Homo sapiens: one gene and its partners. The protein of the gene in region 3 interacts with the protein of the main gene of each other region in a biochemical or structural test. Each region holds a gene or a part of one and is shown on either strand. Other genes may lie near its edges.

The links.
Region 1: the proteins of ORC3 (region 3) and CDC45 form a complex in vitro, tested with the Homo sapiens proteins (one large-scale study listed by BioGRID and IntAct).
Region 2: the proteins of ORC3 (region 3) and MCM10 form a complex in vitro, tested with the Homo sapiens proteins (one large-scale study listed by BioGRID and IntAct).
Region 4: the proteins of ORC3 (region 3) and CCNE2 form a complex in vitro, tested with the Homo sapiens proteins (one large-scale study listed by BioGRID and IntAct).

What each region holds. Positions count from the first base shown.
Region 1 is NC_000022.11:19,482,920-19,488,399, forward strand, and holds part of CDC45 (cell division control protein 45 homolog), read left to right. Parts: intron 1-942; coding exon 943-1,086; intron 1,087-5,480. UniProt on the Homo sapiens protein: Required for initiation of chromosomal DNA replication. Core component of CDC45-MCM-GINS (CMG) helicase, the molecular machine that unwinds template DNA during replication, and around which the replisome is built.
Region 2 is NC_000010.11:13,163,482-13,168,961, forward strand, and holds part of MCM10 (protein MCM10 homolog), read left to right. Parts: intron 1-646; 5' UTR 647-721; coding exon 722-728; intron 729-5,480. UniProt on the Homo sapiens protein: Acts as a replication initiation factor that brings together the MCM2-7 helicase and the DNA polymerase alpha/primase complex in order to initiate DNA replication. Additionally, plays a role in preventing DNA damage during replication.
Region 3 is NC_000006.12:87,606,444-87,611,923, forward strand, and holds part of ORC3 (origin recognition complex subunit 3), read left to right. Parts: intron 1-1,229; coding exon 1,230-1,381; intron 1,382-2,652; coding exon 2,653-2,786; intron 2,787-5,480. UniProt on the Homo sapiens protein: Component of the origin recognition complex (ORC) that binds origins of replication. DNA-binding is ATP-dependent. The specific DNA sequences that define origins of replication have not been identified yet.
Region 4 is NC_000008.11:94,891,433-94,897,530, reverse strand, and holds the start of CCNE2 (G1/S-specific cyclin-E2), read left to right. Parts: upstream 1-2,329; 5' UTR 2,330-2,354; intron 2,355-3,283; 5' UTR 3,284-3,309; coding exon 3,310-3,323; intron 3,324-3,411; coding exon 3,412-3,508; intron 3,509-3,586; coding exon 3,587-3,640; intron 3,641-4,561; coding exon 4,562-4,713; intron 4,714-6,098. UniProt on the Homo sapiens protein: Essential for the control of the cell cycle at the late G1 and early S phase.

The DNA of each region.
Region 1 (5,480 bases), on a different chromosome or scaffold from region 3:
ACCCTGTGGGACTGGGAACAGCCTGAACACAAGAACTTGGTCTTTGTCATCTTTTTTTTTTTTTTTTAAGGAGAGTCTGGAGTACACTGGCACAATCATGGCTCACTGCAGCCTCAAACTCCTGGGTTCAACTGACCCTTCCTGCCTCAGCCTCCTTAGTAGGTGGGACTACAGGCACATGCCACCACGCCCAGCAAATATTTGTTTTTATTTTTGTTGAAATGGAGTCTTGGCTGGGCGCGGTGGCTCACGCCTGTAATCCCAGCACTTTGGGAGGCCGAGGCAGGCGGATTACGAGGTCAGAAGATTGAGACCATCCTGGCTAACATGGTGAAACCCCGTCTCTACTAAAAATACAAAAAATTAGCCAGGCATAGTGTTGGACGCTTGTAGTCCCAGCTACTCAGGAGGCTGAGGCAGGAGAATGGCATGAACCCAGGAGGCAGAGCTTGCAGTGAGCCGAGATCGTGCCACTGCACTCCAGCTTGGGCGACAGAGCGAGACTCCGTCTCCAAAAAAAAAAGAAAAGAAAAATCAGCCTGGAGTTGCTTTCAGACAGGAGTTTTAGTCACCACTTAGGGGTTACACATCTTCATGTCCTATATCAGACAGAGGCCAAGTTGTGGGGCGTTCATTTTATTGGTGTATGACGTAAGAGGATGCTGTGTTTCCAGACTTAAGTAGACTAGATGGTTCTCAAAGAACTGTTTTCAGATTTTCATAATTTCTGCATACCACGTATGGTGTAACTCTGGTGCCTCACTGGTAATGAAAACAAGAAAATTCCTTAGAAGCCTGGAACTCTTGTTAAATAGGTAGCTATTTGTATGAACAGGAAACTGAGTCAGCTTATTAGGAAATGATAAGATTCTGCAGAAGAACATATTGTATAGTTTTCCGTAGAAAGAGGAGAGGCTTAATTCCTTTTTGTTTTGAACTTAGATCAAATTACTCATTAAACAAGATGATGACCTTGAAGTTCCCGCCTATGAAGACATCTTCAGGGATGAAGAGGAGGATGAAGAGCATTCAGGAAATGACAGTGATGGGTCAGAGCCTTCTGAGAAGCGCACACGGTTAGAAGAGGTGAGTTTGGGTCTCTCACAGCTATCCCAGAGGAACTTGCACTCCCAGAGGTCGGAGGTCATCCTGAAGCCTGCCAGGCCAAGGTGTACTGAGGGCAGTGGGAAGTGGAAAAGTTAGCAGGCATGGATGCTGACCCTGGGCTCTGCTGTCCCCTGGTTATGTGGCCTCAGGCAGGTTACTGGACTTCCCTAAATAGTGGCTTATCTGTCCAATAGGATCCTGTCAGAAGAAATGAAATTTAGGACAGCTCAGCTCTGCGGCTAGATAGCAAAAAAATAATGTAGAGAAGCAATAAATAGTGTAACCCCCACCCCTTCCTTTTCTACTGTCTTCTAGCATCACTTACTATGCAGTCACTGCAGAGGAGCAATGTGGGTCTGCATCCCTTGGCCAGGCCCAGTCCCAGACAATTACTGCAGGGGAGGTATCTTGTATGTGAAGATACCAGTGGTTTTCACCATGTGGACCTTGGGTCTGAGCTGCTTAGTGATCTGGGGCTGGGCCCAGTGGCCTACCCAACACTACGGCTTCTGCAAGATGTAAAATGACAGGCAGAAGGTGGTTGTTCCCATAGCACGGAGGGCCACGTGATGCTTTTGAAGATGGCCTCTGGCTCCTGATCTTGGTGTGTGACCTAGAATTTGCCCCCGTAATGTTCTAGGGTCTTCCCTTCATCCTCAGCCTGACATTTCCCGGTAATGTGCTTTTGGGAAGCCTTTTTGAGCCATATTTGAGATGTTCAAGACATTCTTCATTTGGGGAAGGGGCAATGCCCTTCAAACTGAGGCATGCTTCTCTCTTCTTTCTCACCTTTGTCACCCCTTTCACTAGGTTTGGGTGTCTCATAGGGAACCTCTTGGACCCACTGTTATATTTTCTTACCTCTTGCCCAGCTCTTTGTTCTATTTTTTGGAAGACTTTTTGTTTTTTGTTTTTTTTTTGTTTTTTCCCCAGACGGGGTCTCTCTCTGTTTCCCAGGCTGGCCTCAAACTTCGGGCTCACTCGATCTTCCCACTTCAGCCTCCCAAGTAGCTGAGACTAAGCACATGCCACTACACTCAGCTTGGTCTTTATCTTCTAATCTTTGGTTTGTGAGGGGTCCTTTTTGTTCTCTGAATTTTTTTTTATATAGCATTCTTTTAACTATCGATGAGCTGCATTTCATTGGTTCCCAAATGTCAGTATCCAATGGGATTTCCCGGGAAACATTCATGTTCTACAGATAAGTCTTGGAATTTTCCACTCTGACTAATAAACAAATATTTTTTAAGCACTTACTATGTGCCAGGTACCAGTTAGGCCCTGGGGTGCGGGTATGAGAGCAAAGTCCTGCCTTTGCAAAGCTTTCCATTGGGGGAGACAGATACTGATCATGTAAATGAGCACAATTAGGGAAAGCTTTCAGGTATCAAACATGAGTTAGCAGGGGATGGAGCCAAGAGGATTCCTGGGCAGAGCATCCATAGACACTGCAGCTCTGAGGTGGGAAGGAAAGTTTCAAGGAAGGCTTGGCCAGCAGTGCCAAAGGAACAGGCAAATGAGAACAGACCAGTGGGTTTGGCAATAAAGAGAAGGTAGGTTGTCTTGATGAGATACAGGAAAATAATCAGCGTTTCCTTTTACATACTTAACACATCAATTTGGAATTTGTGTTTGTAAATGTTTAACATAATATTCATGGATTATAATAGGCATAATTTCCCACCAACTTTTTATTTTGAAATTTTTTGAAATGTATACAGTGGTTGAAAGGATAGTACAGTGAATATCCATGTACCTTCAATCTAGAGTCAACAGTGGATCATGACTGTAGGTGGTCTCAGCTACTTGGGAGGCCAAGGCAGGAGGATTGATGAAGCCCAGGAATTTGAGAACAGCCTGGGCAACATGAAGAGAACCTGTCTCAAAAAAAACAAAAACAGTTTTTCACATTTGCCACATTTGCTTTCTTTCTGTGTATTCTTTTTTCTGTATTATTTGAGAATAGATTGCAGAAACTGATATTCTTTTTTATTTTTTATTTTGTTTTTTCTTGAGATGGAGTCTCACTCTGTCACTGAGGCTGGGGTGCAGTGGCACGATCTCGGCTCCCTTCAACCTCTGTCTTCTGGGTTCAAGCGATTCGCCTGCCTCAGCCTCCCAAGTAGCTAGGATTACAGGCATGCACTGCCACAGCCAGCCAGAAACCATGATATTCTACACATTCTTTCATAAGCAGCTCCTAAGAATAAGGACATTCTTCCCCATAAACACAATGCCATTGTCATACATAAGAAATTAATAATATCCTAATATCATGTAATATTCAGCCCATATTCAGGTCTCTTTAATTGTCCTCAAAATATATTTTGCAGCTATTTTTATTTCTGAACTATTCTCCAATCAAGATTAAGACATTTAGCTATTCCTCTTTACTGTCTTAACCTAGAACCATACCTTACCTCTTTTTTTTCTTTTGTTTTTAATGACATTGAAGGCCAGTTCTCTTTTCTAATATTTACTACTACTTGTTTCTTCATGGAGTACTTTAACTTGCTTCTCTATCCCTGCATTTTCTATGATCTGTAAATTAGGTCTAGAGCGTTGATTTTAATAACATTAAGCATTCTTGAGAAGAATACTTTTTATATAATTAAAACCTGTGCATGATTTATAACTAAGTATGTGTATATTAGAGGTATATATATATTTTTTTGAGACGGAGTCTCGCTCTGTCGCCCAGGCTGGAGTGCAGTGGTACGATCTCGGCTCACTGCAAGCTCCTGGGTTCATGCCATTCTCCTGCCTCAGACTCCCAAGTAGCTGGGACTACAGGTGCCTGCCACCACGCCCAGCTAATTTTTTATATTTTTAGTAGAGACGGGGTTTCACCGTGTTAGCCAGGATGGTCTCGATCTCCTGACCTCATGATCCTCCCACCTTGGCCTCCCAAAGTGCTGGGATTACAGGCGTGAGCCACCGTGCCCGGCTGCTTTTTAGAGGTATATTCTTAGAAATATTTTTACCAGCCTGGTGTGGTGGCTCAAGCCTGTAATCCCAACACTTTGGGAGGCCAAGGCGGGTGAATCACCTGAGGTCAGGAGTTTGAGACCAGCCTGACCAACATGGAGAAACCCTGTCTCTACTAAATACAAAAATTAGCCAGGAGCAATGGCAGATGCCGGTAATCCCAGCTACTCGAGAGGCTGAGGCAGGAGAATTGCTTGAACCTGGGAGGCGGAGGTTGTAGTGGGCCAAGATCACGCCACTGCACTCCAGCCTGGGCGACAGAGCAATACTCTTGTCTCAAAAAAAAAAAAAAAAAAAGAAATATTTATACCAGACTGGACAACATAGCAAGACACTGTCTCTACAGAAAAATAAAATAAAAATTAGCCAGGCATGGTAGCATGGTCACATAGGCCCGGCTACTTGGGAGGCTAGAGTGGGAGGATGCCTTGAGACCAGGAGGTTGGTTGAGGCTGCAGTGATCCATGATCACATCACTGCACTCCAGCCTGGGCAACAGAGCAGGACCTCATCTCTTAAAAAGAAAAGAATGAAATATTTTTATTAATAAGGGTGCACATTCAAAGAGGTTTAGAGACAATAGGTTATAAATAATTGTTTTAAGGAGTTCTGCTATAGGCCGGGCGTGGTGGCTCACGCCTGTAATCCCAGCACTTTGGGAGGCCGAGGTGGGTGGATCACGAGGTCAGGAGATTGAGACCATCCTGCTAACACGGTGAAACCCCATCTCTACTAAAAATACAAAAAATTTCCCGGGCATGGTGGCAGGAGCCTGTAGTCCCAGCTACTCAGAAGGCTGAGGCAGGAGGATGGTGTGAATCCAGGAAGCAGAGCCTGCAGTGAGCTGAGATCCACCACTGCACTCCAGCCTGGGCAACAGAGCAAGACTCCGTCTCAAAAAAAAAAAAAAAAAAAAAAGAGTTCTGCTGTAAAGAAAAGAGGAGACATGGGGTCGAGAATCATTTTTACTTGTCTTTTAAAGGTTGGATGTTAGAGCTGGACCCCAGCAAAGATGAGAGTCCGCTATAAAAATAACCATAATTATACTTAATCTACAGGTGCTATAATATCGTGGCTCAGGTCACGGGTTTCAAATTTTGTATCTGCTATAACAGCTTTGTGACTGTAGGCAAGTGACTTAACCTCTGTGTGCCATTGTAAAATAAGGAGAATAACTAGACTTAATTGTTTTGGTTCCTACTGATGTTTAACAAATTACTCCAGAACCTAGCAGCTTAAAACAACCTTTTCCTTATGCTCATGGATTCTGTAGGTTAGGAATTTGGGCAGAGCCCAGTGAGGATGACATCTTTTTGATCTGTGATATCTGGGCCCTCAGGTGGGGACTCAATGGCTAAGAACTGGAAGCATGGCTCAGACATCTG
Region 2 (5,480 bases), on a different chromosome or scaffold from region 3:
AGTGCACAAAGTGATACAACTTTGTCTTAATTAGCTACGCTGTTTCTCTGTGCTTTGCTGACTAGTATTGAATCAAAATCCTGATTGTCACTAAGGCTCCACCTAAGTAGAATCATACAGTAAGCTGTCGTGGATAACGCAGATGTCAGGTGTATTACAGTGAATAAAATGAAAGAATAGCCTAATGTAGATCGACCCCAATAATTTGTGTGTGTGTGTGTGTAATTTTTAAAAAAGACAAGGTCTTGCTATGTGACCAGGCTGGTCTCAAACTTCTGGCCTCAAGTGATGCGCCCACCTTAGCTTCCCAAAGTGCTGGTATTACAGGCGTTGAGCCACTGTACCTAGCCAACCCCAATAGTTCTTCCTCATAATTTATCTCATCCACGTAATCTAGTGTGATTTACAAACTGCTCTGCAGCTCAATAACTTTCTGTAACCTTAAACACAAGTAAAAGTGAGCTGCTACATCCAAGGAAGGAGATGGCATTGGCGGTGTGGAGAGAGGAGGTGAGAAATGGTCAGATTCTGGATGAATTCTGAGGTTAGAGCCCATAGGAGTGGTAGGATTCTGGGTTTGTTGGATGTGTGTTGTGAGAGAAAGAGAAGAATTGAAAGTGACATTTCTAATATTGCTTTCACACAGCCAAGATTCTACATTGCTCATCTGGGCATCTGAGCCTCCTTCGAAGTTTCCTGTCACAACTGTCCTCTTGACAGCATGGATGGTAAGACCTGGCAGTTTTCTGTTACTCTGTTTCAAGGAAAACTAACCTTTTGTCCATGGACTTGTTATTTATTCTACCTGTAAAATGGTGAAAATGCTCCCCAGCCCTCAGGTATTGTCTTAGTGGTTCTGAAGCAATCTCACATCTCACAGAGGTCACTGAATGTTACTTGCTTTTATCAGGGGAGATTTCTTCTGGCAACAGAGATTGTCTTTCATAATTACAATAGCTGGTAGGTGTACAGTGGGCCAGGCACTGCTCCAAGATCCTTGTGGAAATTAACTGATTCAGTCCTCAGGCAAACGTATTTTATAGGCAGAAAAACAGGGATGTTTAGTAACTTGTCACAGTTCAAGCTGGCATAGCAGGGCTTTGAACCAGGCAGTCTGACTTCAGAGTTTACATTTGATAATGAAATCTGCTGAAGCGATATTAGTCTAGCTCTGACTTAAGTTTTTATTAATATCATCCTTTCTAATTTTGTTCATTTTGCAAGGATGTGTACAAAATGTTTACCTAGAAAAGAGATGTTGCACTAATTAGCGATCACCTAAAATGATTGTGCTGGGCTGGACGCAGTGGCTCACGCCTGTGATCTCAACACTTTGGGAGGCCGGGGTGGGAGGATTGCTTGAGCCCAAGAGTTCAAGACCAGCCTGGGCAATAGAGTGAGACCTCATTTCTATTTTTAAAAAATTAAAATGATTGTGCTGGTTGTGAAGAGATCTAGTTGCATAATTGAACTCATAATCTGAAACTGGGTTTTTTTAAAAAATTCAAACATATTACACTTTGCCCTTTAAAACAAAACTTGAAATTCCTCACACTGTGATGCACAGTGGACCCCCGTTGTCCCTGAGAGATGTGTTTCCACACTCCCAGCAGATGCCTGAAACCCAGGATGGTACCAAACCCTAGGCATGCTGTGTTTTTTCCTGTACATACATACGTGTGATAAAGTATAATTTATGAATTAGGCACAGTGAGAGATGAACAACAATAATAAAATGGAACAATTATGACAATATACTGTAATAAAAGTTATGTGAATGTGGTCTCTCTCTAAAGTATCTATTGCACTCTCAAAATATCCATTGTACTGTCCTCAACCACAGTGACCATGGAAAATCAAAACCACAGAAAATAAACCCTCAGATAAGGGGTTATTCCTTATGTGAAACTCATTGCCTGATGCTATCATGGTAGTTTCCTGTTTCTTAAAATTGGCAAATTGCCTACAGGGCAGGTTATATAATACAAAGCATCACTTTTTGCTATCAGATTGACATGAAAATAAGAGGTGAATGGATACCTGTTCTCTAAGAAATCATAGTATCTATCTGGAAACAGTATAGGTCAAGAAAGAAGAAATCATAATGTTTAGGCTGGGTGCGGTGGCTCATGCCTGTAATCCCAGCACTTTGGGAGGCCAAGGTGGGTGGATCACCTGAGGTCAGGAGTTCGAGGCCAGCCCGGCTAACATAGTGAAACCCCATTTCTACTAAAACTACAAAAATTAACCTGGTGTGGTGGCATGTGACTGTAATCCCAGCTACTCAGGAGGCTGAGGCTGGAGGATCACTTGAATCTGGGAGGCAGAGGTTGCATTGCATCGAGATCCCACTACTGCACCTCCAGCCTGGGTGACAGAGCAAGACTCCATCTGAAAAAAAAAAAAAAAAAGAGGAAAAAGAAATCATAATATTTAGTAAGAAAATCTCATTTGATTGGCATGGGTTCACAATTTGGCCGGTGTAGAGGAAATCGGAGACTGTATGGTACTTGGGATATACTGTTGAACAATGTTCCTGCTTATATTTTAGTGGAGGGAGAAAGATAACAAAACAATAAACGGGTAGTTAGTAGATGGGAGACACTGCTATGTCTTTGTATGCTGACAGGAGTGCTTCAGAGGAGAGGGAGAAACTGGGGATTCAGGAGCCAGAGAGGTGGTAATTGTAGAATGAAGTCTTTGAGAAGCTGAGAAGTGGGACCCAATGTAAGAATGTAAGTGGAAGAATTGGCTGTGAATAGCACTAGATACTTAGTCCCAGGAGGGAAAGCAGAGAAGATACGTTCAGAGTTGGGAGTGAAGGATGAGGAAGTCTGATTACATCTATTTTTTCTGTAAAATATAAGCCAAGGGCTGGGCGCTGTGGCTCACGCCTGTAATCCCAGCACGTTGAAAGGCCAAGGCAGGTGGATCACCTGAGGTCAGGAGTTCGAGACCAGCCTGACCAACATGGAGAAACCCCATCTCTACTGAAAATACAAAATTAGCTGGGCGTGGTGGCACATGCCTGTAATCCCAGCTACTCGGGAGGCTGAGGCAGGAGAATCACTTGAACCTGGGAGGTGAAGGTTGCAGTGAGCCGAGATCGTGCCATTGCACTCCAGCCTGGGCAACAAGAGCAAAACTCTGTCTCAAAAAAAAAAAAAAATACATACATACATATATATATATATATATATATATATATCATCAGCTAAGAGTAAAGAGTGGGGAGTGGGCATAGGAGGTTTGAGGAGAGACAGTGTGAAGTGGTCAGAGCCTGGGAAAGCGAATGAATTGAGGAAGTGTGGGAATCTTTAAGCAGTGCTGAATGCTTGTTTGTTATGGGTGTGCAAAAATTTAAAGTTAGACTGAGGCAGGGTCTTGTTGATCATACCTGTAGTCCCAGCACTTTAGGAAGCCAAGGCAGGAGCATCGCTTGAGGCCAGGAGTTCAAGACGAGACTGGGCAACATGGCAAGACCCCATTTCTACAAAAAAATATTTAATAAGCTGGGCATGGTGGTGTGCACCTCTAGTCCCTGCTGCTTGGGAGGCTAAGGCAAGAGGATCGCTTGAGCCCAGGAGTTTGAGGCTATAGTGAGCTAAGATTGCAACACTGCACTCCAGCCTGTGTGACCCTGTCTTGAAAAATAAATAAATAAATAAACAAACAAAAAAGACCAGTCAGCATGGTAGCGAGTCTTTCTCCAGGACCATTCACCAGCCAGGGAGCTGAGTCTTTAGAAGGCAGTGAGTGATGATGGTGTTGAACATGGATCCACAGGGAGGGCATTAGGGGCAGGGGGTGATGGACAGGAAACACATTGTAGGTAGGCTGATGGGTTAGACATGTGGATGAAGCTGAAGAGCTGCTGGATGTGAATACTAGAGTGAGCGGGCTGAAAGGATGGGAGGTTGGATCACAGAGGGACGTTCAGAGGTCAGTTGTGCTTTGCTGTGATGAGTTGGAGTTACTATGGGAGTGGGTAGCTAAGATGGGGAGTGGATGAGAAACCCAGCGACCAAGATGTTGGCTGGATCATCCTTGCGGAGGTTGAAGTGCCCCAGGAGGGTGATAACAGTAGAGATGGAGGGGAGGACCGGGGGGGGCATGCATGATACACATATGATGATCAGCACATGACAGTGCCATGAGGGGTTCTTGATGCCAGCGTCTGGTGTCTTGAACTTCAGAGAGCTGTGATCTGGAAAAAGACTGAATCATTCCAAAGTGACAGTGATAAAGAAGACATCAGGAACCTGAAGTTGATCAACAAGTATTTGTTGCATGCCTAATACGTGCCGAACACTATTCTAGACATTGCCATGTGAGGTGTGAACAATTAAATGCTTTCCATTCAAGAGGCTTCCAGGGGTAGCCAGATTTCTGTTGTAAGAGCCACTGGGGATCCGAGAAACGTGCTGATAGTAGATTTCACATCCCAGGGGTTTGAGAACAAAGAGGCTGGGAGATTGAGTCAGCGTAATACAGAGAAGACATGATTTTTGGTGGTGACTGAGGTAAACGGGGTTGTGAGGCACCATGGGATTAGCCCTCGTTCTCTTGTGAAGGGTTCAAAGTGAATAGTATGGGGTCCCCAGGCAGCATTTTCCACCTGTGGCCCCCAGTGGTGTGAGCCAGAGCCTCTTCCCGGGGTGTGCCCTCTTTGGCAGACGGGAACAAGAGATGGTGGAGGCCTCTTTGCTTCCTTGCAGGCATGTGACATTCTCAGAGCACAGGGGGCTGCCTGGCCTCTTCTCTCTTGCACTGTGCAGCCTTGGAGTCTTTGTGGACTAAGCAACTCAAGCTAATCCTTATACAACCTCTGACTGAGCATTAGGCCCCATCATCAGATTCTAGGCCTGAAGTTTGGCTACTGGCTTTTTCCTTCTGGTAAGGGAGTGTAGAGTGGTGGAAAGGATATTGGTTTGCTGATCTAGAGATTCCTTATTAACCCAGCTCCTGAACTGATCTGTTTCTCCATGTGATCCTGAACAAGCCCCTCACCCTCTCATACTCTAGCCCCTGAATTTCAGACAAGGAGAGTAGGTCAGATATCCTTAATATTTTTCCATTGAATACCTCTGATTTTATAAACAAATAGTGCCCAAATAGGGGGGAAAAAAGAGCAAAGAAAATAGATAAATCAAGAAAGAAGAAATCCGATTGGCAAATAAACAAACAATTCTTAACCTCACCAGTAATCCAAGAAATGCAAATCAAAACAGTGAGATGCCTTTTTAAATCGTCCATCAGATTGACAAAAAAATATTTAAGTGACACATCAGATATTGATGAGGTGGTGGGGAGAAGTGGCCCTTGTGTACAGCTCTAGTGAGAGTGATACAGATGATAGCAATTATTTAGGGAGATAGTAAGGGCAACAGAGTCCTCAGCAGAATTTCCCTTTTAGCAAAAAGCAGCCCCCAAGTAATTTCTAACAAGGCCAGCCAGAAAAATCAAGCGGACATAGAAAA
Region 3 (5,480 bases):
GTGAAAAATAGTCCACTGACAGAGGTAATCCTGAGCATGTGAACCCATGAAATCATAAAGAGTGTTCACACTAATATATTAAAAAGCTTTTTTTTTTTTTCTTTTGAGACAGGGTCTCACTCTGTTGCCTAGGCTGTACTACAGTAGCATGATCATAGCTCAGTGCAGCTTGAACTCCTGGCCTCAAGCAGTTCTCCCACTTCAGCTTCCCCAGTACCTAGGACTACAGGTGCATGCCATTACGCTCAGCTACATCAGCTACATTGTGGGGTTTTGTTGTTGTTGTTGTTTGTAGAGATTGGGTCTTGCTGTGTTGTCCAGACTGGTCTTGAACTCCTGGGCTCAAACAATCCTCCTGCCTTGGCTTCCCAAAGTGCTGGGATTACATCTTGAGTCACCATGCCTGGCCCTAATGTGGTAAAATTTGTTTGGATTAGATTGATAAAAGAGATTTATGTGCTTATATTGCTTTCATATTCATAAACTGATTGAAATTAAGTAAAAGCCCTTAAAGGCATCTTTAAAAATGGCTATATGAAAGATTTATAATCAGTAAAATAATTCATATGACACTTGATTTTTCTTAGGGAACTTGAAAACTGTTTATTTTCCTATGTAATTTAAATACATATTCCTAAAATTTATAGTTTGCATATCTACACATTTGCTTCTGTGACCTTTTTATTATAGATAATATACATAAATGGCTGGGAGCAGTGTTTGATGCTTGTAATCCCAGCACTTTGGGAGGCTGAGGCAGGCAGATCATGAGGTGAGGAGTTCGAGACCAGCCTGGCCAACATGGCAAAACCCCGTCTCTACTAAAAAATACAAAAATTAGCTGGGTATGGTGGCACGCGCCTGTAATCCCAGCTACTGGGGAGGCTTGAGGCAGGAGAATTGCTTGAACCCGGGAGGCAGAGGTTGTATTGAGCCGAGATCCTGCCACTGTACTCCAGCCTGGGCAACAGAGCGAGACTCCATCTCAAAAAAAAAAAATAAAGATAATATACATAAGCTTTGGTTTAGTCTTAGTCTGAATTAATGAAGGTACTAATGAGCATCAGTAGTTAATATGTTAAATGTTACATTAGCTGTATTGATGGTAAGTATAAAAAAACACATTCTACCAAAAAAAAAAGTAATACACTCAGCAAGAAGTTTCAAGAGCTTTGGTTTTATTTTTAGAAGAGGCAGAGATAAGCTTTCTTACTTTTTATATTCCACAGATATGAAACATTTTTTGCAAAAGTTGATCTCACAGTTGATGGACTGCTGTGTAGATATAAAATCCAAAGAGGAGGAAAGTGTTCACGTCACCCAAAGAAAGACACATTATTCAATGGATTCACTTTCCAGTTGGTATATGACTGTCACACAGGTAGATATAAACTGATGATTTTCTCCCAGGAAATTGACGTATGATTGATGTGGCTTGGAATAATATTAGACAGTACTGTTTTGATCTAACAAGGATATGTTTCTGCAGCACTAGGTGTTAATTTAAAAGTAGGTATTTATTTTTTCTAATGCTACTCGAATTTTAAAATGTTCTTTTATTAGTATGCAGCCTAATTCCAGGTAAGTGCTTAGGTTTTTACAAGGACATATTATTTGTTGGAGAATGTCCTCTAATGACAAAAACAGAGCATCAGGAATTGCTTCTGTTGCATGTTCCATCTCTGTGACAGTAACTATAACTTTAGTATATTATCTCTTATGTTCCTCAATGTTTGCTTTGTCCAATAGAACCATGCTGCTAGTATCCACTGTCAACTTAGTTCAATGAAGAATAATCATGTATTTTCTAAAGTCTAATTTGTTTTATGTTTAGAGTTCTTAGGGAATCAGTGTTCTTTAAGTAAAGTATGTTAGACAAACAGATAAGTAAAAAGAAGTTCCATTCTACCATGACAGTCTGGTGAAAAATAATAACCTAGGTTAACACTAGGTAATTGCGTCATAAAACCATAGTCTTAGGTTATGGTGCTGTGTAGCCAGACAGTATGGGAAAAAAAATACTGTGGTTACATTTTCCAATCAACATTTTTGCTGAAATCATCGTAAGTGAAGTTTCATTTTGCTTTATATAGGGACTAAACTACGTCTAATACTTACCATAATACCTGATTTGCTCCACAATTTTAGACTTTCCAGATAAAATGCTACTTTTGGTTTATGTCAGATATCTTTTTAAAAATTGAGATTGGACCAGATGATACCTAGTATCCATTTCAGGCTTGAAATTTCACAGTGGCAGAGTAGCAAGCACTACTATTCATTATATTTTTTTCATTAAAAATACTAGTTCTCACTATAAAGCAAAGCAGAATATAACTTTCTACCAACAGAAAAATCAATTTTGTAGAAAATTTCCTCTTCCATGTTTTTTTCTGTCATTTCCTTAGCAGAAAATATAAATATTTCATATGAGTTATAGATTTTTACTGAACCTTTTTCTTCTTGGTTATTATTCCCATGTCAGACACAGCAAGATTCTAGTAACCTGAGTTTCTATTTATCGTGTGGTAGAAAAAAAATAAACAGTGTTATTGTGAAATTTAAAGAGAGATATGTCAACATGTGGCATTATAACATTGTTTGAGTGGTAAGGCTTACCTTTAACTCTTTCTTTCTGCAATGGCTTAAAAGAAGACGGACCCAAAAATGCTAAGCAAAAAAAGGACTACTTCTAGCCAATGGCAGTCTCCTCCTGTTGTCGTTATCTTGAAGGATATGGAAAGCTTTGCCACAAAAGTACTACAAGACTTCATAATTATCAGCAGGTAGATGGTGTATTACCTGGCTTTTATGAAAAACTCCCTTTTTAAGAAAATACTACTTTTAACTTGAAAAGTATAATCTTCATTTTAATACCAACTGGATAAAAATCAAAGTATTCAAATTCTTTATAATTGAATATTCAAAGACTTCCTATCAGATTTTCCATTTGCTTTTTGAGCCAAGAATGAGAATCAAAGGCACATTTAGCCAGTTTTAAATTGACATGGTAAGATAGTATTAAATATGGTTTTTCTCACCAAGATTGACTGTCTCTTACTCACCCATTAAATAGATAAACTACTCCAGGTTGAGTTTGTTGTTTTTGTTTTTTTCTTTTTTTTTTTTGAGATGGAGCTTTGTTCTGTTGCCCAGGCTGGAGTGCAGTGGTACGATCTCGGCTCACTGCAGCCTCCGCCTCCTGGGTTCAAGCAATTCTGCCTCAGCCTCCTGAGTAGCTGGGATTACAGGTGCCCACCACCACACCTGGCTAATTTTTGTATTTTTAGTAGAAACAGAGTTTCACCATGTTGGCCAGGCTGTTCTCGAACTCCTGACCTCAGGTGATCTGCCTGCCTCGGCCTCCCAAAGTGCTGGGATTACAGGAGTGAGCCACCATACCTGGCTAAGTTGAGATTTTTATTAGGTCTTATTTTCTGATACCCATCCATCCTTAGATGCTCTGAGTTGCATATAGTTTTACTAAGCAAAAGTGTCTTCTAAATAACATTATTTTGCATTTATATAATACTTCTAGTGAGAAACTATTTTCACGATTGCATTGCGTCTTCAAAGCAATCATGTGAGACTCAGAATTGAAATAATGAACTCTTATTTTAAAATCCAGTGACATGCATTTTCCCTGGTGTATTTTTTAGGATGGAATTTATTTTGGCCTCTTCTATATGTCAACTTGTTTTAATAGTTATAGCTACATTTGCCTAAAGCTATATATTGTGTTAAATAATTTACTAGTATACTTTATTTTTATTTTTATTTTTGGAGACAGAGTCTCGCTCTGTCCCCCAGGCTGGAGTGCAGTGGCGCCTTCTCAACTCCCTGCCACCTCCGCCTCCCGGGTTCAAGCAGTTCTCATGCCTCAGCCTCCCAAGTAGCTGGGATTACAGGTGCCCGCTGCCACGCCTAGCTAATTTTTGTATTTTTAGTAGAGACAGGGTTTCACCATATTAGCCAGGCTGGTCTCAAACTCCTGACCTCAGGTGATCTGCCTTCCTTAGTGCTCTTTGGGGCCTCCCAAAGTGCTAGGATTACAGACATGAGCCACCACACCCAGCTAATTTACTAATATACTTTATTTTTTTTTATTTTTTATTTTTTTTGAGACGGAGTCTCGCTCTGTCGCCCAGGTCGGACTGCGGACTGCAGTGGCGCAATCTCGGCTCACTGCAAGCTCCGCTTCCCGGGTTCACGCCATTCTCCTGCCTCAGCCTCCCGAGTAGCTGGGACTACAGGCGCCCGCCACCGCGCCTGGCTAATTTTTTGTATTTTTAGTAGAGACGGGGTTTCACCTTGTTAGCCAGGATGGTCTCGATCTCCTGACCTCATGATCCACCCGCCTCGGCCTCCCAAAGTGCTGGGATTACAGGCGTGAGCCACCGCGCCCGGCCTACTAATATACTTTAAATTTCTACTTTGATAGGATCTTTTTTCCTTCATTGATTCTAAGAGTTCTATATATTAGGACTTTTCTTTTTTTTTTTTTTTTTTTTGAGACAGGGTCTGGCTCTGTCACCCAGGCTAGAGCGCAGTGACATGATCTTGGCTCACTGCACCCTCCACCTCCTGGGCTTAAGCAGTCCTCCCTTCTCAGGTCCCCAAGTAGCTAGGACTATAGGCACACACCACCATGCCCGGCTAATTTTTGTATTTTTTGTAGAGATGGGGTTTTGCCGTGTTGCCCAGGCTGGTCTCAAACTCTTGGCCTCAAGAGATCTGCCCTCCTCAGTCTCCCAACGTGCTGGGATTACAGACATGAACCATCGCACCCAGCCCAGATCCTAGGACTTGCATGAACCATTGCACCCAGCCCAGATCCTAGGACTTTTCTTAATGCTGACACTGAACTGCTTAGCATGCTTGGAAAGTACATAGTACAAAATAGTGACAGAAAAGCTGTACTTTTTTTTGGAGCTTAGACTTAATGACTACCTTAGCCATCAAAAGTGAGGAAGACTATAGAAAGGGCTCAAACTTTGAATGAGATATTAAATGGAATGGTATCTAACATCTCTTCTAACACTTAAGATTGTATAATCTTCGGCCCGGGCATGGTGGCTCACGCCTGTAATCCCAGCACTTTGGGAGGCCGAAGTGGGTGGATCACATGAAGTCAGGAGTTTGAGACCAGCCTGACCAATATGGTGAAACCCCATCTCCACTAAAATTAAAAAATTAGGCATGGTGGCACGCACATGTAGTCCCAGCTACTCGGGAGGCTGAGGCAGGAGAATCGCTTGAACCCAGGAGGTGGAGGTTGCAGTGAGCCGAGATTGCACCACTGCACTCCAGTCTGGGTGACAGAGCAGGACTCCATCTGAAAAAAAAAAAAGAAAAAAGATGGTATAATCTTCAGGAAAACTTTCTGGACCTCTCTGTTCTTATTTATAAAATGAGAGGATTTATTAAGAGATTGATTTCAAAGCTAGACTGTCTGGAAAGTAATTATTTCTCTGTTTAAT
Region 4 (6,098 bases), on a different chromosome or scaffold from region 3:
CATGTACAATAGGGGAAATATACTTTAGGTGAATTTTAAAACGGATAAGTAGGAAAAGAGCAAGCTAAAAACAAACATACCCGCCCCCTACCCTTTATTTTCTCTTTTTTTAACAGACCCACTTGTCTATTGACCAGGTATCTGTAATATGGGAGAATTCACTCTATTCCTTTCCACACAAAGACGTCTTGGAATTTTCTAATTTCTCCTTTACTATGATTGCATTCTGTTCACATAATAGTCAAGGGTATGGAAAGAACATTTATAAGAGCAGTGTCTTTTAAAATCAATTTACTAGTTAACTCAGTACTGAGCATACATTCATCATTCAAAGATGATTCCCACAAACGTTACTCGACATACTGGTTTTCAGTATATTTTATCAAATTCAACCACGAGGGCCACCAGTTCTGCTTACGATCAGGTGACCCTTGTTGGGAGACCCCTGACCCCTTTTCTTGACATCATGCTGTTAGACCTTTAAGCTAGCTATACCGCTAACTGCGTTTTGAGTGACTGCAAAAGGGAGGCAACTTCTGCCCCGCCGAGAGCCATCCTAAGCGTTAGAAATGGCAGAAAGTTTCTTGGGACTGACAAGGCATGGGCTTCTCCTGATGCTGTCACCTTGGGCAAAGCTCCTACAGGTAAATTAGGGAGAGAATTATTTTGCCGGCGTCACGAGACGAAGAATCGAAAAAGTGTGAAAAAGGACTTCGCCCGCCCCAAAGCGCCCATCCGGCGGCGGCTATTTCCCGGGCCTCAAGCGCGCTCGAGCGGCGCAGCACAAAAGGCCGGGCGGGAGCGGGGGTCGCCGGGCGCCGCCTCCCGGTGCATCTCGGGAAGGGCTCCCGCCCGCGAGGCTCCGTCTCCCCGGCGCGGCCCGCTCGCCGTCCGGCTCGCTCAGGGCCTGGGCAGACGCGGCCCGCCCGAGCTACCGCGGGTTCCGAGACGCCTTCGCACTGCTCCTCCACCCGGGGGATCTTTGTTCCCGGAGCTGTTCCCCGCCTCGCTGCTCCCGCCGCAAAACCTGTTTGCGGAATACCCGCCGCAAGTCTGACTTGACGATGTGCAGTTTTGGGGTGCGCCAGTTGTGGGGGCATTCATAGAGGCAGCGAAGGGACCCCTAAGTTTAAACACCCGGGGAAGGATAAAGGAAGAGCGTCGGGCCCCCCTCCTCCCAACAGCGCTCGGGCGCGAACGGCGCCCTCCCGCGCTGCCGGCTCGCGCGGGCTCCGCAGGGCGCGCTGGCGGCGGCGGCGGGGCGGGGCGCGGCAGGCGGGCCCGGGGCCTGCACGTGGTGGCGATCTTTCTTCCCACCCGGCCAGGTCCCCGGGGACCACCGCGCTCAGGGGGAGGAGGAATGCCGTTCCCGGGCCCCGCTCCGGAGAGGGGTTTTACCCTCTGGGATCCCGGAATTGGAGGTGGAGAAGAGAGGAAGCAAGGGAGGGCGCGGCGTGGCGCGAGCGTTTCCTGCGCGGGGACTGCGGGGTGGCAGCTGGAGGCCACTGCAGGGGCAGAGCGGCGGGTTGGGGGAGCGACCGACCCATGGGGAGGGAAACCCGGTAGGGGGAGCAGGGAGCCGGAAAGCAGGGTTGATACATACCTGGGTGGGCGGGCTGGAAATGCCTTCCCTGGGCGCGCCGCGCAAGGCCGGCGGAGCGGGCTCCGGGTGGTCGCGGACCGGGACTGGGGAGAGCAGAGCCGCACTTGGCCAGGCGCGTGGCTGAGTGGTGTTTACATTCTGCAGCCACTCCACGTTGTGCTGCCGCCCGTGCCTCCCATTGGCCAGCTCTTCAGCCAACGCTTTGCTCCTCCCCGAGGGGCGGGCCCTCGGGTCCCCGCGTCGCTCAGGAAAGACCTGGGTTCCCTGAGGCCTTGGCGGGACAGCTAGGGCGCGCCCCTGGACGGTCACTTCCCAGCCACCCTATGGTCGCCCGAGTCGTGTCCCCCTGTTATGCGCCCGGGCTGAGCCGCAGGCTGACACCCCCGAAATCCAGGAGTTGCAGTGGGAGGAAGCAAAAGCAAACTGGCGGGAGATGCGCGAGCCAGGCGGCGGGGAGAACAGCCGCGGAGAAGGAGCCCCTGAGAGTTTCCCTACCGCCGCCGGCCGCGCCGTGGAGCGCGGTGGACGCGGGCAGAAGGCCCGGTAGAGTGGACCCCACGGCCGCTCCGGGTGGCGGGCGCGCACTGAGAGCAGGGCGCGGCGCGCGGGCACGCGGGCGGACGGGCGGGAGAGGGGAGCGCGCTGTCCGGAGGTGTCAGTCTGAGGCGCATGCGTGCGGGGCGGGACCGGCCCGGCCTATATATTGGGTTGGCGCCGGCGCCAGCTGAGCCGAGCGGTAGCTGGTCTGGCGGTGAGGAGTTGCTGCGCGTAGGGGGGATGTGGGAGGAAAGAAAGCCCAGTTGGGCCGATCACTTACCACAGGCGGGAGCCTCAGGGAGGAAAATCGGGAGGGCTGAGAACTAGACGACTGGGGGTCATGGGTTCCCGCGTTCCGTCCCTGTCAGGAACCTTGGCAGGGGACCGGGAAGCGGCTGGGCATGGAGAGCCGCCCCTCATTCTAGGGGCTTCTCTATCCCACCCTCATTTGGGGAGCTATCCCGTGGGAGAGAGGATGGGAGGCCGGGTCCCCTCCATGGGGAGAAAAGTTCCCAGCCAGCCCAGTCTCCCCTTTCTTTAGCTCCTTTTCCTGCCCTCCCCCACGCCCTCCGCTTCCCATCTGGAGTTGGGGTCCCGGCGCCCCTCCGAGCGGCGGTAGGGCGGCAGGGCCGGGAAGGAGGGAAAGGAGACTGGAGGCCGTGACACCAGTCTTGGTTCCTCCGCCCCCTGCTTCCCCGCCACCGCCGCTCTCCAAATTGGCGCGGAACCGGCTTCTCCACAGCATTTCGCCTCCACAACCCCCTCTCCCCGCTGGTCCAGGAGGGAGGCGGGACGTGGGGGCGCTGCCCAAGCCCCACTCCCGGTGTACGGGGGAGAGGGTGGAGGACCCAGAAAAACCCGTTTGAGGAAGATGTGCCTCCCTGCGCGTTCAAGGTGTCAGGAGTGCTTGGTAAATTTTTGGACACTCGCGTTCCAGCTGTACATTCAGTTGAGGAAATGCAGGCTTGTATCCAAAATGAATTACCATGAGCTAGCTAACATAGCACAGAAGATGGCAGGGTCACAGGGCCCAGGCCCCCTTCGGAGGGACTGAGCTTTCACCTGCGAATCAGCGTCTTACTGGCACTTGGAGAATGTGAATGACAATGTACTTGACTGCGGCTTTTCCTCTCCCCCCTTCAGAGGTTTTATACACCTGAAAGAAGAGAATGTCAAGACGAAGGTAACATTATCTGTCTTAGAGACATGTTTCAAATTAGTTGCTGCCTTTAACTTACTAATTACACTTCCTTTTTAAAAATTCACTACAGTAGCCGTTTACAAGCTAAGCAGCAGCCCCAGCCCAGCCAGACGGAATCCCCCCAAGAAGCCCAGATAATCCAGGCCAAGAAGAGGAAAACTACCCAGGTGATTTAAGGAGAAAGAGGGAGGAACGAAATTCCATGCTGGGACTTTAGTTTACCAATGGTCTTTTCTATTTTCCAGGATGTCAAAAAAAGAAGAGAGGAGGTCACCAAGAAACATCAGTATGAAATTAGGGTAATGCAGAACTGGGCTGGGTGGGTTTGGGGGAAAAATGGAGGATAGATGAATAAGAATAGAATTATGTGTTTATTGCTTTGCGATAGATTCCTCTGACACTTTTACTTTTAATGCCCCTAGAGGTCAGCAGGAAGGCGCCTATCTTTGGGTGGTTTCTATGTGCCCGAATCCTACTACAGCTGCAGAATAAGTGCCTTCAAGCAGCTGGTTCCTTTTTGTAAATCCCTCCCTCTTGGAACTGCCTGGTGCACCAGGGCCCGCCTAATCTGTCCAATATACTGCTCTTTGTTCCCTCGCAGACTCTAGTAGACGGTCCTAATAGCTGCTTCTTGGGCATAAATAGGATGTGAGATCACTGACAGCCTGGCACGCAGCCCTTTGGTACCTCTTCTTCCTATGTGTTTTACAGAAAGCAGCACTTTGGAGATAGTGATTGCGTTTGAAACCAGCATTATTGGGAAAAGAATCGTTTAAGTAATCGATTCCATTTTTAAGGTTTTGCTTTCAAATATTCAAAAGTATCAGAGCACACTTTTTTTAAAAAGAGCTTATTTGAAAAAAAAAAAAAAAGGTCCCTGCTACTATTGCTAGATACAGAGAACGATTCTGTGATCTTGAAAGTGATTAGTATTTTAGACTGCAGATGCATTTTGTTATTACTGTCCTTCTTCGACACCTGGTGTCTTCTATTACCAGAATTGCATTTTGTTGTCTAAAACATCCTATTACTCTTTATAAAAATCAATATGAGCTATATGGCTTGTTTATAAAATGTGAATGTCAAATTAGCTATATTGCCATCTATGTTAGCTAAAATTATGATTCTTTAGACATATTAGCTTTCATTTATGAAAGATCCATTACAAAAACTAAGGTTTTCCTTGCACAAATTGATATTTTTCTTTTTTTTTATGACAGAATTGTTGGCCACCTGTATTATCTGGGGGGATCAGTCCTTGCATTATCATTGAAACACCTCACAAAGAAATAGGAACAAGTGATTTCTCCAGATTTACAAATTACAGATTTAAAAATCTTTTTATTAATCCTTCACCTTTGCCTGATTTAAGGTAAGAAAAATTTCAGTAATTTTATTTCAAAGATATAAAGTTGTGCTGATTTAATACATGGCACTATTTTGTCTTTTGCTTTCATAAAGTAGAAAAACGTGTAAAAATTGTTTACTAATATTTAATCATATGTCATTTTATCTGAGAGTAGTGCTGGTTGCAAATGATATGGGTATTTAAAACACTGATTCTATAAAATTATTTTCATTTGCTTGCTGAGTACTATAAAGACTTAACAGGACTGAATTAGTTTTTTGTTAAGATAGAAACATTTTTACATGTACAGCTTTTTCCTTTAAAATTTTTATTCGTGTTTCTTGCAGCTTCAACTCAAAGGAAGCTTTTCCAATTGATGTATCAACCCTATTTATTTCTTACCAAACTTAATAAGGTCTATACTTAATTCTTTTTTCTAGTCCATGAGTGTAACTAAGAGGTACAGCTTATACAAAACATGTACTGTATTAATTTATGATTGGCCTTAATAAGCAATTTAATGGAATCAGACACTTAAACTCACCAATCCCCCTTTCCCTGCATTCTGTCCCACCTTACCCACCCCATAGGTGATCCTGCTGTAGATGATCTATTTAGAGGTGATTGAGACTTCTCTTGACTGTGATCACATGCCTTATGTGTTTAACTTTTTTGTATTGCTCTTGAGAAAACATTTTTTTTCACTTTTAATTGCATTTATTTTAGTGCTGAATTTACTCCTGTGCCATAAGTTTTTGTTTCTTCAGTTTCTTCTGGGATATCTTTTTCTTCTGGGCAACCGCCTCTTCTGGTTTAGGAACAATTTGTTCCTTTTCACTAAAGATCATTTCGATGTGGCAGGGAGAGATCACGTGTGAGTTAATCCGACCATGAGCTCTGTAGGTCCGTTGGCACATCGTAGGTGCTTTGTTCACTTGGAGATGCTCAATGACCAGAGAATCTACATCTAAACTCTTAAGTTCAGCATTACTCTCTGCATTTTTAAGCATGTGCAGCAAAAATTCAGCACTCTTTTTGGGCCACCAACCTTGTGTCCAGTCCCACTGCTTGGCCTGGGTACACCTACCAACTCCACCATTGTAATGTCAGAATGGCACATGCTGTTTCTGTAAAGTGACATTTTAAAAATACTTCATGGTGTTTTTTTTTTTTTTTTTTTTTGGAGACAGAGGTTTGCTGTTGTTGCCCAGGCTGGAGTGCAGTGGCACGATCTCGGCTCACTGCAACCTCCACCTCCTGGGTGCAAGTGATTCTCCTGCCTCAGCCTCCTGAGTAGCTGGGATTACAAGCATGCCACCACGCCCAGCTAATTTTTTGTATTTTTAGTGGAGACGGGGTTTCACCATGTTGGCCAGGCTGGTCTCGAACTCCTGACCTTAAGTGATCCA